Linked DNA regions of Homo sapiens: region 2 is linked to region 1. A link means that fine-mapping ties the variant in region 1 to the expression of a gene that starts in the linked region. Tissue or cell type: whole blood. Region 1 holds a variant in brackets; the other region holds the start of a gene. All regions are shown on one strand. Distances are between the middles of the regions. Region 1 overlaps AK8 (adenylate kinase 8). Region 2 holds the start of AK8 (adenylate kinase 8).

What was found.
Region 2: it holds the start of AK8, and the variant in region 1 is fine-mapped to the expression of AK8 in whole blood (TOPMed, PIP above 0.99).

Annotation. Positions count from the first base shown.
Region 1 is chr9:132,845,047-132,853,373 of GRCh38, reverse strand. All of the region lies in intron 5 of AK8 (adenylate kinase 8), which reads left to right. Among named protein-coding and RNA genes, the nearest start is that of AK8, 29 kb to the left of the region's middle. The variant C/A (reference allele first, on the strand shown) is at 4,587.
Region 2 is chr9:132,874,345-132,882,671 of GRCh38, reverse strand. It overlaps AK8 (adenylate kinase 8), which reads left to right and starts at 4,388. Exons shown (of 13, transcript NM_152572.3): 1 at 4,388-4,500; 2 at 7,473-7,557. The coding sequence starts at 4,417. SPACA9 (sperm acrosome associated 9) reads right to left here and starts at 3,774. Exons shown (of 4, transcript NM_001316897.2): 1 at 3,658-3,774.

The sequences.
Region 1 (8,327 bases):
CTTTTTTTTTTTTTTTGAGGCGGAGTCTCATTCTGTCGCCCAGGTAGGAGTGCAGCGGCATAATCTCGGCTCACTGCAACCTCCACCTCCCAGGTTTGAGCGATTCTCCTGCCTCAGCCTCCTGAGTAGCTGGGATTACAGGCATGCGTCACCATGCCTGGCTTATTTTTGTATTTTTAGTAGAGATAGGGTTTCCCCCTTGTTGGCCAGGCTGATCTTGAACTCCTGACCTCGGGTGATCCACCCGCCTTGGCCTCCCAAAGTGCTGGGATTACAGGTGTGAGCTACCGTGCCCGGCCTATTTTTAGGTTTCACTAGTATAATTATGACATGTCTGGGATGAATTTCTTTGGGCTTATTCTTTTTGGTGTTTGCTGAGCTCCTGAATTTATAGGTTTGTATTTTCCTCCAAACTTGCAAAGTTTTTAGCCTTTATTTCTTCACGTAACTTCCTGCACCCTACTCTCTCTCCTCTCCTTCTGCAACTCCAATAACACAAAGCATTCACCCTTTTGCTGTTGTCCCACAGGTCCCTGAGGCTCCAGTCTTTTTTTTTCTTATCATTTTTTCTTTCTTTCTTTTTTTTTTTTTTTTTTTTTTTTTTGAGACCTAATCTCACTCTGTTGCCCAGGCCAGAGTGCAGTGGCATGATCTCGGCTCACTGCAACCTCTGCCTCCCAAGTTCAAGCAATTCACATGCCTCAGCCTCCCCATTAGCTGGAGTTACAGGCATACACCACCGTGCCTAATTTTTTTTTTTTTTTGAGATGGAGTCTTGCTCTGTCACCCAGGCTGGAGTGCAGTGGTGCGATCTCAGCTCACTGCAACCTCCGCTTCCCAGGTTCAAGCTATTCTCCTGCCTCATCCTCCCGAGTAGCTGGGATTACAGGCACGTGCCACCACACCCGGCTAATTTTTTGTATTTTTTAGTAGAGACGAGGTTTCACTGTGTTAGCCAGGATGGTCTCAATCTCCTGACCTCATGATCCACCCGCCTCGACCTTCCAAAGTGCCGGGATTACTAGCATGAGCCACCGCGCCCGGCCCAATTTTTGTATTTTTAATAGAGTCAGGGTTTCACCATGTTGGCCAGGCTGGACTGGAATTCCTGACTTCAAGTAATCCTCCCGCCTTGGCCTCCCAAAGTGCTGAGATTACAGGCGTGAGCCACCATGCCTGGCCCCTATTGTTTTTACTCTCTATCAGTCACATGTGATAATTTGTATTGAACTATTGTCAGGGTCACTGAATCTTCCCTTGTTTTTTTATTCCACTATTGAGCTTGTCCTGTGAGTTTTTTATCGCATCGGTTCTTTCTGCCTTCTGTGTCTTTGCTGAGACTGTATCTTTCTGTGTTTTTACCAGTTGGAAGTTTCTTGTAATAGCCGCTTTCGAGTTTTCATCCGCTAATTCCAGTATCTGAGTTACGTGGTGGTGACATCTGTATCTGCTCTCATGTGAGTAGAGATGTTCCTGGTTCTCCCTGCGCTAAGTAATTTTGTATCCTGGACATTTTAAATATTGTTATGAGGCTCTGGGTCTTGTTTAAATCCTATGGCAAATGTCATTATTTTTGTCTTAGCAGATGACTGATTCAGTTGGGTTCAGGTTGCATGTTCCAGCCAGGCTTCTCAGAGTGTGGTTTCCATGTCAGTCCTGTGTTCAGCAACTTTGCAGTGCCGTGCAGTGACCGACCATGCAGCTCTGTGCTATGTGCACATCACCCAGGGGCACCTGGGGACTTGGCAGTGAGCTGGCCACAGTTCATGTCTCAGTGTCTCTGAAATGCCGTTTAGGGTCAGGCCCACACGTGCACAGCTTGGGGGTGAGCCTTTGATCTCATCAAACACTGTGTTTAGTTACTTCCCTGAGCTCCCCTCTCTGTCATCTCCTGATAACTCCTAGTTCCCTGGTGCTCCTCTTTTTGGTATTTTGGCCAGAAAACTGAGGTTATTTATCCTGCTCTGCCACTCACTTCCTGGGACTGCACCCATGACCAGGGTCAAGTGGTGGGAGGACAGAGAAAGGAAGGATTGACAGGGCTTTGCCCTGTTCTCTTGGGACTGGAGAAGGGTCCCCTCTTTCAGTGTTTCAGGCACCTGCAGGCCCCTTTGACACAGCAGTGCCACCACAGTCACCGCAGGACTGCCTGGAGGCAGGAGTGTGAGAAAACAGAGAAAAGAAAAACCCCACAGAGGTATCTCCCCTCCTAGCTCGCTCTTCTCCCATCTGCTTCCCACTTTCAGCCTTCAGGTTGCCTTAAGGCCAGGCCAGGAGATACTGGTTTGGTGGTATTTTGGATTCTAGTCTTTTCCCCCAACTTGCCTACTACTGGGTAACTTTCTGAGTCCTCGAATAGCTGCCCTGTGTGTTTTATGAATGTATTACAGCTACTTTCAGTGGGGTTGACAAGGCGGGTGGCGCACATTTCCTGTCTCCCAGAATCAGAACTTGTGTCTTTTTTTTTTTTTTTTTTAAATGCACCTACAGATTCTCTCTCTTTCTCCATCTGTCTCTCACTTGAAAATGTATTAGGGCCAGGCTGGGCATGGTGGCTCACACCTGTAATCCCAGCACTTTGGGAGGCCAAGGCAGGAGGATTGCTTGAGTCCAGGAGTTCTAGACTAGCCTGGCCAACATGGCAAAACCCCGTCTCTACTAAAAATACAAAAAATTGGCCGGGCGTGGTGGCCCACGCCTGTAATCCCAGTATTTTGGGAAGGCGAGGCGGGCGGATCACCTGAGGTCAGGATTTCGAGACCAGCCTGGCCAACATGGCAAAACCCTGTCTTTACTAAAAATATAAAAATTAGCTGGGCATGGTGGTGGGTGCCTGTAATCCCAGCTACTTGGGAGGCTGAGGCAGGGACAATCACTTGAACCCAGTAGGCAGAGGTTGCAGTGAGCCAACATCACGCCACTGCACTCCAGCCTGGGTGACAGAGTGAGACCCTGTCTCAAAAAAAAAAAAAAAAGTATTAGGGTTGAATGCAGTGGCTCACGCCTGTAATCCCAGCACTTTGGGAGGCTGAGGCAGGAGGCTTCTATCGCAACGACTCAGCTCTGATGTAATACAAAGGCAGCCGTACACATGCCATTGCACTCCAGCCTGGGCTACAGAGCAAGACTCTGTCTCAAAAAAAAAAAAAAAAATTAGCTGGGCATGGTGGTGGGTGCCTGTAATCCCAGCTACTCGGTAGGCTGAGGCAGGGGAATGGCTTGAACCCAGGAGGTGGAAGTTGCAGTGAGCCGACATCACGCCACTGCACTCCAGCCTGGGTGACAGAGTGAGACCCTGTCTCAAAAAAAAAAAAAAAAATGTACTAGGGTTGAATGCAGTGGCTAATGCCTGTAATCCCAGCACTTTGGGAGGCTGAGGCAGGAAGATCACTTAAGTCCAGGAGTTCAAGACCAGCCTGGCCAACATGGTGAAACCCTGTCTCTACTAAACATACAAAAAATTTGCTGGGCATGGTGGCGTGCACCTGTAATCGCAGCTACTCGGGAGGCTGAGGCAGGAGAATCGCTTGAACCTGGAGGAGGAGGTTGCAGTGAGCCGACACGCACCACGGCACTCCAGCCTGAGTGACAGAGCAAGACCCTGTCTCAAAAATATATTGATTGGGAAGCCCCAAACCTGAAGCAGGAATCTTTCCAGCATGCTGGCGAGGGAGTAGCAGTTCTCACGAGCTTGTTCTGCATGGCCCTCAGCCATGGGATCTCCATCACAAACACCCTGCCGGCCGGGCTGCAACACTGGCTCTGAACAGTGTGTTTACATCTGAATTGTCTCAAATTGTTCACTGTGAGTGGATGGTCTTCTGCCCAGGTGTGGGCAGATATCCAGAGCCCAGAGGCTATTCTAAATCGGGGGTGGACACATGTTTTCTGAAAAGGATGGAGAGACACTCGTTGAGGCTTTGCAGGCTATATGGCTTCTGTCACAACGACTCAGCTCTGATGTAATACAAAGGCAGCCGTACACAACACAGACACAAAAGGGCACGGCTGTGCTCTAGAAAGACTTTTATCTTAGAAGCAGGCAGCAGGCCAGATTTGGCCCGCGGGCTGTAGCTTGCCAACCCCTGTTCTAAGTAACACTTTCACATTGATCATGAAAACATTTCTGCCCTTTCTCTTGAGCTCTCAATAAAAAGCAAACTTCCGGCTGGGCGTAGTGGCTCACACCTGTAATCCCAGCACTTTGGGAGGCTGAGACAGGCGGATCATGAGATCCAAAGATTGAGACCATCCTGGCTAACATGGTGAAACCTCGTCTCTACTAAAAATACAAAAAATTAGCCGGGCGTGGTGGCACGCGCCTGTAGTCCCAGCTACTCAGGAGGCTGAGGTAGGAGAATCGCTTGAACCCAAGAGGCAGAGGTTGCAGTGAGCCGAGATCACGCCACTGCACTCCAGCCTGGGCGACAGAGTGAGACTCCGTGTCAAAAAAAAAAAAAAAAAAAAGCAAACAGGAGTGTTAGAAGAAAGGCCAGCTTCCCCATAGACTTTCATTTTAACTAAGTTCCCTCCCAGTCACCTGACTTCCAAGCTCGGCGACTTGATTCTGCATCTCCAGTTGAGTG[C/A]CCCCTGCAGGCCCTGCATGGTTTTCACTACCAGGACCCTTCCCCACACCCGAGACCTTCCTCCTCAGCACCCCCCACTTCTAGCAAGATGGTCTTGCCTGCCTTGGGCTCACCATCTGCAGTTGAAGGCAGAGTCAAACATGACCAAGGCAAGGCAGATGGTGAGAAGGGTTGTGATGGAAAAACCAGGGCGGGAGAGTCAAGTGATTCCTGAAGCCTCTAGTGAAGGGGACTGGAGTGGACTGTGGAGGGGCCGTCTTAGGCTGGAGGGAATGGCAGCCAGAAGTGAGGCAGGAACCAGAAAACCCAGTCCTTTACCCCAATTTCACACTCTTAACTCAGAGTGTCAAACCAACCTCACGGGAACTTTTCCTAAAACTGACCCATCAGTCGGTCACTATTTTTAAGGTTTCCCACCTCTTTTACCTAGGAAGTGCCAAACAATCTTTTGGCAGAGCATTAAAGGGGAGGGAAAGATGGCCCGAGTGACTGGAAATGGGCCAGCATTTTCCCATACAAAATGCTGTGTGCCTTAATCCATTATCCATTATTTCTTATGCATTTGCCAAGTTGGATTAGACTCTTGCATAGCAGATCACCAGGCTGGAAGCATTCAAGGGAGTCTTCCTTTCTTCTCTTCAATCTTTTTTTTTTTTTTTTTTTTTTTTTTTTGAAACAGGGTGTTGCTCTGTTGCCCAGGCCGGAGTGCAATGGCACGGTCATGGCTCGCTGCAGCCCCAACCTCCTGGGCTCAAGCAATCCTCCCACCTCCGCTTCCTGAGTAGCTGGGACTACAGGCACATGCCACCATGCCCATCTGTTTTTCATTTTTATTGTTTGTAGAGTCGTGGTCTCCCAATGTTGCCCAGGCTGATCTTAAACTGGGCTGAAACGATCCTCCTGCTCAGCTTCCTGAGTAGCTGGGATCACAGGCGCGCACCACCATGCCCGGCTAATTTTTGTATTTTTTGTAGAGACAAGGTCTCACCATGTTGCCCAGGCTGGTCTCAAACTCCTGTGCTTAAGTGATCCACATGTCTTGGCCTCCCGAAGTGCTGGGGTTATAGGCATGAGCCACCATGCCTGGCTCTCTTTGATCTTTAAAGCTAAGCTGTTTTCTCTTTTTCATCATGATAGCTACTCATCAAATTTGGTCAAATATAGGGGGGTGGTACTCCTTTGGCTTAATTGTACCTTAGTTGCCCAGGACTGGACCCCCTCAGCAGGGGTGGGGGCTGTCTGTGAAAGCACAGCTGGATATGGTCTTGCCCATCAGGCAGTGTTTCAAATTCAATATGCCAAGAGTTCCTGGAACCAGGACTGTCAGTGTGATGAGCATTCGTTCTAAGCACACAGGAAGGGAGAAACTATGTAGTTCATATCCTCAGGAATAACACGCACCTAAAAAATGTGGCATACTCATGAGCCACCATCACTGCCCCTGCCAAACGAAAGGCCCGGTGGAGATGGCGCCACGGTCTGTCTTAGTCAGCAAAGGCAGCAGGACTTCCCCACGCCTGGTGGTAGAAGACCTGCCTTTCCCTTTTCAGATTTCCTTTGAAGATGCTATGATCCCCAAACCACCTGTGACCCAGGAACTTGAGCAGGAACTGCTGTGTCTGGGCCGCTCTTCCCCCGGCCCGCTCTCCTGGTCAAGAGTGTTTGCTTCAACCAGCTGCCTTAGTGCAGCAGAAGCCGGGAGCTGGCCTGCTGACCACTGGAAGGCAGAAGTCTCTGGGATCCAGGCAGGCAGGAGAGCAGGCAGGCCCAGAGCCTCTGCTCCAGCTCTCTATCTCGGCCCGGGAGAAGCCAGAGACCTGAATGGAGCATGCGTCTGAGCCTGGCATCAGGCACTACGCCCAGCAGCTTCTCCAGCTTCACGGGACCCTACATGGCCAGTGTTACTATTATTGTGCCCATGTTGTAGCTGCAGGGCCTGAGGCACGCCCAGAGCCACACCGGGGGAAGCGGCAGGGCTGGCCAGGGTAGACCAGGCACATGGTGCACAGGGCCAGCGCTCTGACCCAGGGGCTCCAGGGCTGTGCTATGCAGCCCAGGACAGAAGCTCAAAGGCTGGGCAAAGCCTATCTACTCCCTGTCGTGTTTTGTGCCATTCACAGGCCCCCAACGTGTCCCCATGCCACCTGATATGTTCCTCCACTAGAGTCGTGACCAAAAGCCTTGTCATGGTTTGTTGGCCTACCCGGCTCCCCAGTCAGTGTTTCCTAAAAGTACTCATTCATTCATTCATTCATTCATTCATTCATTCATTCATTCATTCATCTATTCTCTCATGCAACAAATCACTTTGCTAAGCACAGGGACCAAAGCAGTGAACAAGAGAGTTAAACGTCTTGCTCTCAAGGAACAGAAGTTCTAGTCATGGAGAGACAGACAATAAACCAGATAAATAAGCAAAGGAGTCACGTCAGTTAGAGGCAGATCTGAACTTCATAGCTGGAAGAGAGGCTTGGCATGGGGCCAAGGCATCTGTGGGCCCCTCTGCCCCATCCACCCCACACATCCATTGCAGAAGGCCCAGGGTGGGTGTCTGGATACCACTGAGCAACCCTCAAAGTCTCTCTCCTTTCCAACCTCAAAACATTTGAAACAGTACTATTTCGTGTAAGTAATTTTTACAAGTTACAGCATTCCAATGAAAATGTTTCTGGTGGGTAAGCATTCTGGATTCTAGGTGGAAATCTAGAATCCAGAGATGCAGGGCCTCAGGGTGGGCTGCCAGTGATCGTCTGTGTGTCCCACTGGCTATATACACGCCCTTGAAGCCGCACTGCCCTTCTTTCCCCACTCCAGAATCTAACAAGGCTGCACAGTTTTCACACAGGATCCAGCTGCCTGGACAGATTTGTTTCCGTGATTTTTAAAAAATTTCTACCTCACTGAGTGATAGTTTCTGGGGAAAATATGGTGATTCTCTCTGTGTTTGCAGCTGGATATCCCAAACATGCCCTCAGTGATCTAGAATAGTCATTTTTTTTTTTTTTTTTTGAGATGGAGTTTCGTTCTTGCCCAGGCTGGAGTGCAGTGGCGCGATCTCTGCTCACTGCAACCTCCGCCTCCTAGGTTCAGGCGATTCTCCTGCCTCAGCCTCCTGAGTAGCTGGGATTACAGGCACATGCCACCATGCCCGGCTAATTTTTATATTTTTAGTAGAGACCATGTGGGCCAGGCTGGTCTCAAACTCCTGACTTCCAAGTGATCCCCTCGCCTGGGCCTCCCAAAGTGCTGGGATTACAGGCATGAGCCACTGCACCCGGCCTAGAATAGTCTTTCAAATATGCATTTAACTTCTGTGAATTCTTCCTGAGCTTATTTAAAAGCTTGGTCTGCATAACCTCTTTGCATAGTGCACCTGCAGTGTGGACAGAGTACAGGACCATGCATCCCAAGTCACCATCATAAAAATGATGATGAAGTCTATTGTTAGAAATTAAAATCTCAATTATAATTGACATCGTTATTAGTTACATTACACTATATGTGATTACATTGTATTATAAATAATATATTGACTGAGTATTTATAATGTGTGTTATTATTATGATTATTTTGATGATGGTGGTAGCTGTAGTCTACGCGCCTGGTCTGGCATGTTATCTGCTACATGACATTGCAGGTGCACCTTGCACTATGCAAGAGGCTGTAATTACATTCTGGGTGACTCCCCTTGATTGGGAGTGTAGCATTGGCAGCAGGACCGTGTGCTGTGGAGTCCTTACA
Region 2 (8,327 bases), 29 kb before region 1:
GCACATTCCAAGCTTCCAAGCAGGTCCCAGGTGGATAGGAATAACAAGACGGGGCTGGGAAATATTTCTTTCTGCTGTGTCCAGAGCAGGGCTGGAGCTGGGGGTCCAGTTTGAACCCAGGAGGTCAAGGCTCCAGTGAGCCATGATCGCAGTACTGCACTCCAGCCTAGGACACAGGGAGACCCTGACTCAAAAAAAAAAAAAAAAAAGAGGCAGGGTAGGGGGAGCATCCCAGTTGATGCAAGAAGAGATGGCATCAGAGGAATGAAAGGAAACACAAGAACAGACCAGGAGATGGCCTCCGCGAGATGATGGGGGTGGTACATCAGAGCACTTGGAGGAGGCTGGGGAAGAGGCCCTTTAGCAAGATGGAGCCCAGCCATGGAGCCTCTATCCCTGGAGCCAAAAGCCAGCAAGGCTGCCTTAGAGGAGCCACCTTAAGAGCCACTGAGTGAGTCTCCTGGAAAGACAAGAGAGTATGCTTCTGCAGCAGAGCCACAGCACTGTGACTGTCAACAGACACAGGGACAGTCGCAGCTGCCCTGGGGGTGGGCCTGGGCCAGGGCAGGCAGGGCAGGGGCCTCTTTCCAGCTCAACCTCCTATGGAAAGGAGAGCTGAAGGTGGGGAATGAGATGGGGGGTCCATGGTTTATTGACACCTGCCATATCCTTGGCTGGTCCCTGCCACATGGAGCAGACATGCTGACTCACGCACAGTGGTTTCCTGTTGTGCCTCCCGTGGTGTCCGGCTCACCCAGGACCAACTAGGGTGAGGTGAGGGAGACACTTGCCCCCATGCAAAACTTAAGGAGGCGCCAAAAAACTCGGCAATCAAGATGAAAATAGGCCAGGCACAGTGGCTCATGCCTATAATCCCAGCACTTTGGGAGGCTGAGGCAGGAGGATCGCTTGAACCCAGGAGGTCAAGGCTGCAGTGAGCCATGATCGCAGTACTGCACTCCAACCTGGGTGACACAGTGAGACCCTGTCTCAAAAAAAAAAAAAAGCATCTTGAGTAGCTGGGATTACAGGTGGGTGCCACTACACCTGGCTATTTTTTGTATTTTTAGTAGAGATGGAATTTCACCACGTCAGCTAGGCTGGTCTTGAACTCCTGGCCTCAAGTGATCTCCCTTTCTCAGCCTCCGAAAGTGCTGGGATGATAGGCATGAGCCACTGTACCCAGCCCCAAAAACGTTTTTTAAAGAATGGGTCTTGCTCTTTCACCCAGGCTGGAGTGTGGTGCTGTGATCACGACTCACTGCAATCTTGACCTCCTGGGCTCAAGTGATCCTCCCGCCTCAGCCTCTTGAGTAGCTGGGACCTCAGGTATGTGCCACCATGCCTGACTACCTTTTTTCTTTTTTTTTTTTTCTTCTTTTTTTTCTTTTTTTTTTTTCTTTTTTTTTGTAGAGATGGGGTCTCCCTATGTTGCTCAGGCTGGTCTCGAACTCCTGGGCTCCAGCGATCCTCCCACCTCAGCCTCCCAATGTGCTGGGATTAGAAGCATGAGCTGGCAACATCAGAATTTGTAAAGAAAAGATTGCTGGCTGGGCGCGGTAGCTCACGCCTGTAATCCCAGCACTTTGGGAGGCCGAGGTGGGTGGATCACGAAGTCAGGAGATTGAGACCATCCTGGCCAACACGGTGAAACCCTGTCTGTAATAAAAATACAAAAAAAGTTAGCCGGGCACGGTGGCGGGCGCCTGTAGTCCCAGCTACTCGGGAGGCTGAGGCAGGAGAATGGCGTGAACCTGGGAGGCGGAGCTTGCAGTGAGCCGAGATGGCGCCACTGCACTCCAGCCTGGGCGACAGAGCAAGACTCCATCTCAAAAAAAAAAAAAAAAAAGATAGCTGCACCTTGCCATACTGAGGCCTGAGGCAAAAGGAGAAATCAGTAACACTGAGCCTACCTTTACTTAAATTTTTGACATGTTATTCTAAATGGATTTTAGGCAGCATTATTTTTGATTTTTAAAATATATTGCATTAAAACGTGAAAAACATCCACCTCAATGATTGAATTGCCGGCACTCCCTTAAGTTTTGTGCTGAGGGTGCATCACTTGCCTTGCCCTAATGTTGGCCCAGGGCTTACAAATGACTCAAAGGTGAAGCTCCAGAAAAGTGAGAGAGAGCACATAGGTGGAGTTCCAGGGAGAAAGGGCGTGTGCCCTTTCGGCCTGGCTTTTCCCTCATCATGGTGGGAGCTGTGGTTGGTAGTGGTTGAGAGGAACTGACTCTGTTCTTGATCCTAGCAACTTGTGACATGCACGCCAGGAATGTCATGAGAGGAGCTGTAATAAGCTATCCGAAGTGATCGTCCCTTGAACGAGAGCCACTGCAGCCAAATTAGTGTGGATGAAGGGCACAGGGGACGGGCACTTCTCGATCTGGGGGAGGAGGGAGGAAAAAAATGATTACCCATAGGTTTTAGGCTTTAATTGATTTGTATTTTTCCAGGCTGCTAAAGAAGATTGAATCATGGTAGGAAAAGCGCCTAGGGCTTAAAATAAATGAGGAGAAAGGCAAGTCATTTCAGAAATGTCCAGGAAGCAAAACAAACCTCTCCAGTGCAAATGGCAGGCATGGCTGTTGTGTTCTTTGCTCAGGGGGAGGCAGCTTCCTTTTCTTCCCCAGCTATCTTTACAGTTGGGTTTGACAAGCCTACCAAGGTGTACACACTTTGAGGAAGCGGTTTGGAGGGGAAGAGGCAACAGTGCTGGCTTTTACGTTGGGAGGGCATGTCTCTGGGCTGATGGCTGGTAGAAAAGGGCTTTAGCTGGAGCCTGGATGCAGAGTTCATGCCCTGGCTCTGCCCAATCTAACCAGTGGCCCTAGCCAAGATTTCCCCCTTTTCTGGGCCTCAGTTTATCCATCTGTCAAATGAGAGAGTTTGGATTAGCCTCTTCTTCAAGAGGCCTTCTGGTTCTAAGGCTGTATGATCAACAACTGATGAGAAAAGAAGCCCAGAAAGGGGAAGTGACTCACCCAAAGTTACCCAGCCAACCACTCCTCATTGTTCTAATCCTCCAACTTCTCATCTGTAAAATGGGAATGAAGGTGCCTATTTCACAGGATTGTTGGAACGATTAAATGAGATACTACTACTAATAGTAGCCCCATATATTGTGTGCTTACTGCATGCCAATTACTCTCCAATACATTAGCTCCTGAAATCCTTCAGCAGTTCCCTCTTCACAGGGCAGGAAAGTGAGGCACGGAGCAAGCAGAGAGTTTGCCAAGCTCACACAGTAAGAAGCGGAGCCAGAACTTGAAGCTGGGGCTGTCTGCATTGACTGTGCCATTTTCCCTCTCCATAAGGTACAGAGACAACAGAATTTTGCCGAGAGCACAAAGAGTTCAACAAACTCTTACAGCTCCTACGATTAACGGCAACAGACAAGAGCTAGAGATCCCAATTCAGTGTTGCGACTAATAAAATATCAAGCTGCCCCGTACCACTGGGAATTCATACGACTTAAAAAGCTCCGTCTCCAGCGCGAACCTTCCCCTCGCCCCCACCCCGAGACAGCTGTGCAGGCCCCTCCATCCTCCGGACCCCTCCATCTTTCCATCCTCCACCCCAGCTTCCAGTTTCTGACCCAGAGGCCGGGGTGGGGTCCGAGTGGGCCCACCCACACTCATCCCTGTTTACCCTTGCTTGTCCTAGAGCGCTCTTCGCTCCACGGAGCACCCAGAGAAGTTGGAGTGACTCCGTGAGTGTCGGTGCCCCGGAGGGTGGGGAGGCCCGTTCCAGGACTTGGGAGGCGAGGGTGGGTGGGGACGTCGGGCGAGAAGGGGCGGGGCCGCGGGCGTGATTGTTACCGCCGGTGCCATAGCAATCGGGTCACTTGGCGGCTTGGCCAGAGCCGGGGAGCTGGGAGGGGTCTACCGGGGCTCGACTCTAGGAGTTGGGCTGAGGATTTCCACCCGATCCTCGAACCTCCGGCCCATCTCATGGACGCCCCTCCCCCTTCAAACACCCTCCCCCACATTTATTCCCGCGTCTGTTTTAAAGATGGGTAAACTGAGGCACAGGGAGCCGGGCCGGGGAGCACTGACAGAACCAGAAGCAGGTTCTGCCTCCCGTCCCCTCGGAGGGCCGACTTGCCCCTTCTGGGTTTCGTCGGGGGTCTCAGATACGAGGAGGCCCAGCTGGAAGCCACCTGAGGGTGTCCCCCGCTAAGATGCGCAAATGGGAAAAGCGAGGCCGGGGTTGGGGAAAGAACTTGCCCGAGCCGCAGAGCGCGTCAGCCGGGGAGGTCGGGGCGGGGGCGACCCGCGCGACCGAGGATCGGGTATCTGGGCCCGGCGCGGAGCCTGCAGGGCGGGGCCGCGGCGCGTGCTGATGACGCAGTCGGCGCGGCGGCCCTAGCGACGCGGTTACTAGGGAGCGGCGAGCCGAGACGGCTACATGGACGCCACTATCGCCCCGCACCGTATCCCCCCCGAGATGCCCCAGTACGGGGAGGAGAACCACATCTTCGAGTTGATGCAGGTGACCGGACACCCCTGCCCGTCGCGACGCTGGCGGCGGCTCGGGAGCCTCCACTGCGACGTCGGGTGCGCGGCCGGGACCCGCAGCTGGGGCCGAGTCGCGCGCCCACGAAGCAGCCCAACTCGGGATGTACGATTCGTGTGTCGCCGTGACCCCGAGGGGGCCCTCGAGCTGGGGACGCTCCTGGTCCTGCCCGGGTTTGCCTCAGGCGGACCCAGGGGGAGGAAGGGGGCCACTCGAGCCGGGATTTGGTCCTGGCTGTGCCGCCAGCGGGCCTTATGGTCTGGAACCAGTCCTTTCCTTTTCTCGGTTTCCCCACCTGTGAAATGCCAGGTTGCAAGAGGTGGTCTCCCAGGGGCTCTCCCGGCGCTGACAATTACCATCTGTCGAATTTGTGGGGAGCCTCTCGGCCCAGGTTTCTGAGGTGGGCATTGTCCGAGTTCAAGCTGGCATCTCCATCCTCAGAGAGGGCCGCCTCTGGGACAGCAGCATCTCCCACCTTGGTCCCTCCTCCTCAGGGCCAGACGTCCCCGGCAGCTCCGAAGCTCTCATTCTGGCTCCAGGCCTGACTGGGCCCCCAGCTCACCGTGTGACTTTGGGCGAGGCCCCGTCCCCGCCAGGGCCCCAGTTTTCCCTTTTGCACGTGGTGGAGGTCAAGGCTTTCAGGAGCTGGAGGGGAAGAACTCTCAGCCACTCAAAGGTTCTGAGAGGCAAGGGGAAGCTGGAGCTCAGTTTTCAGATCATTTGTCTGCTTCCCAGGGTACACCCCATCCCCAGGGGCATGGCATGGAGGGCATAGTGGTGTCTGTGGTCATTTGAGGTTCTGCCCTGCACACTAGACAGCTGAGCCCAGACGAAGAAACCCGTGTCTGCACCTCCATCAAACACATTTCCCTCGGAAAGTGTTAACTGATAGAGGGAGAGCAAGAGATTCCTAAAACTGCTTGAGTGGCCAATCACAAATCAAATAGCTAGCTGGGTTAGAAGTCAGCAGGTCAGGGCAGGATGGGGGATCATCTGGAGCCCTGTTGTCTGCTCTAGAGAACCTGGTGTGTTTTCCACATTGATTGTTGGAGGAATTGCCCAGGAAAGCTTTTATTGATTTTGAAACAGGGTCTTGCACTGCTGCCCAGGCTGGAGTGCAGTGATACAATCATGGCTTACTGCAGCCTTGAACTCCTGGGCTCAAGCAATCCTTCTGCCTTAGTCCCTCCAGAGTAGCCGAGACTACAGGTGCAGGCCACCATACCTGGCTAATGTTTTTTTTTTAATTTTAGTACAGACGAGGTCTTGCTATGTTGCCCGGACTGGTCTTGAACTCCTGGGCTCAAACAGTCCTTCTGCCTCGGCCTCCCAACAAGAAAGCTTTCAGTCCAGTATTTCCAGTCCTTAGTCATCTGTGGATTCCCTCCATGTTTTTGACCATTTCCATTTTTTATACTTTTGATTTTAAAATAATGTTAGATTCACAGGAAGTTAAAAAATAGTATGGATTTCTGGTCTCCCCTCCCACATTGCCCCCGTGATAACATCTAACATAACTGTAGCACATTGTCAAAACCAGGAAACTGGCATTGGTACAATAGGATTACCTGAACTGTAGGCCTTGTTTGGATTTCCTCCATTTTTACCTGCATTGATGTTTTTGTTGTGCATACAGTTCTGTGCAGTTGTATCACATGTACAGATTTGCATAACCGCTACTGCACCTCCATTTAAACTAATCACTTGTTTAAATCAACTCACCTTTTAAAAAATTAAATAGCCGCTTTTGCCTCATCCTAAGTGATATCCTTGAAATTATTGATTTGATGTACTTATATTTCTAATACACGTTAAATACACAATGATTTAAACATGAAATGTAAAATATTTATGTGTGAACCATCTAAAATCATCTCATTCCATCATCGCACCAGTGACATACAAACATGAATTCACTCCAGCTGTGCTACTGAACAGGCAGAGAAGCTGAGGCCCAGAGAAGGGAAGGGACTTGCTGATGAGATACAGTGGGGCTGGAACCAAGACTTCTCATGGCTCGGTGCTCTTTCCCTGCCCCACACTCCCTTCACTCCAAGAGGGCTACAGCCCCTCCCTCCTTGTCCCTGGGGCTCAAGGATACCCCTTATTGCAGCAGCACAGCTGCTATGAGCTCCTCCTCATTTCTCTGCCTAGGGTTCTGCAACCCCAGAAGCTGCTTTCTCTTGATATGCTTGCCTGATTGGATGAAATGGCCAGAATATCCCAGGACTATTTAGAAATCTGGCTGGTAACATTCTGTTCCATTCTGGAGAGACACAGTTAGTGGTGACGGTCATGTTCCCCAGCAAACATCTGCGCTGGGCATCTGCTATGACTGCCAGGTATTGGGGTGCCAAGGGCTCTAGGCAGACAAGGAGGCCCACAGAACCCATGGCCTGCCGGGGGGATGGTGGCCTGGTGAGTAGGGACAGGGTGAGGCGTGGAACAGGGCGATGCCCGCAGGCAGGTGCAGGAGCATCTGACATATTTACGTAGTGCACATACTCAGGAAGGTATGTTCCCATTGAGATCTGAGACTGAGCAGAAGTTAGCCAGGATGAGGACAAGGCAGAAGCTTCCAAGCTGAGGGAACAGCATCTGCTAAGGCTCTGAGGGGAATGGTGATGCTTGAGAACTTGGAGAAGGCTGGTCTGGGAAGCTCAAAGGGCCCCAGGGGAGAGAGCCCTGGACTGCCTGCTCTGAATCAGGGGCGAGACTCCTCCACTTCTGCCTCCCCATAGGTGCCTCCGCAGCAGCACCACGTGGCCCCCCTCATGCCTCTGCTCATGGGGACCCAAGCAGATGCCAGCTGGGGCGGTGGCTGGGTCCCAGGTTGAAGGCATGTTTGGTGGGGTGCAGTGGAGAGAGCAGGCCCCATAGCTGGTATCTGTGGTGACCAGGTGCCCTTGCAGGTATTAACCACCTGGGTGTCTGCCCTGCACCCACAGAACATGCTGGAGCAACTCCTGATCCACCAGCCCGAAGATCCCATCCCCTTCATGATCCAGCACTTGCATAGAGACAACGACAATGGTGAGCACTGGCTGGGGCTCTTCCCCTCCTCGTCTTCCCTTCCCCTCCTCCTCCTTCCCCTTCTTCCCTGACTCCTCTGCCTCCTCCTCCTCTTCCTCTCCAGGAACCCTGCCCCATCCCGAGAATAGCTGAGCACCATTCTGTCCTACCTGTGTCTGAAGGGAGGTCAGAAGGGAGGGGTTTCATCAACTTGAGGTGGTGGTTCATTGAAAAATGCCTTGATTTCTTTTGGAGCACAACTTATAAAAATTCTCTTGCCAAGTTATTAAAATGAAAACCCCAGAATGACCCATGGAATCAATTATTAATGCTTTCGCCTGCCCTAGCTGATGTCGCCTGTTGGGTTTCAGCTCTCTGATCACTCCACTTGTCAGGTGTAAGTTTGGTTTCTGGTCTACCTAGACAGGCAAGCTCTTGGGCTTTTCCGACGGTCTCATTATCGGAGCCTGTTAATGAGTTTCCGAGCTCCCCAAACCTTTGCAGTTGGCCGGTGCAGGTCAGCCTGACCCAAGGCCGGAGCACAGAACTGGGGAGGAGGGAGGCGCTCACTCAAGGAAGGCCCCTCACTCCACTCCATGGTCCATTTGCCAAGTGGAGGATCAGTCCTGTCCTTTGTGAGCTGTTGGGGAGGACCGATGTCTTGGAGCTTTTATGTTTCTTTCGTTGGAGCATTAGCTGCTTTGAAGGAGCTACCAGTGCACCAGTGAAATTAGTGCTTGGTACAGCTGAGGACAGAGCCCAGAGATGCCCTGTGTGGAGGTTCAGAAGGC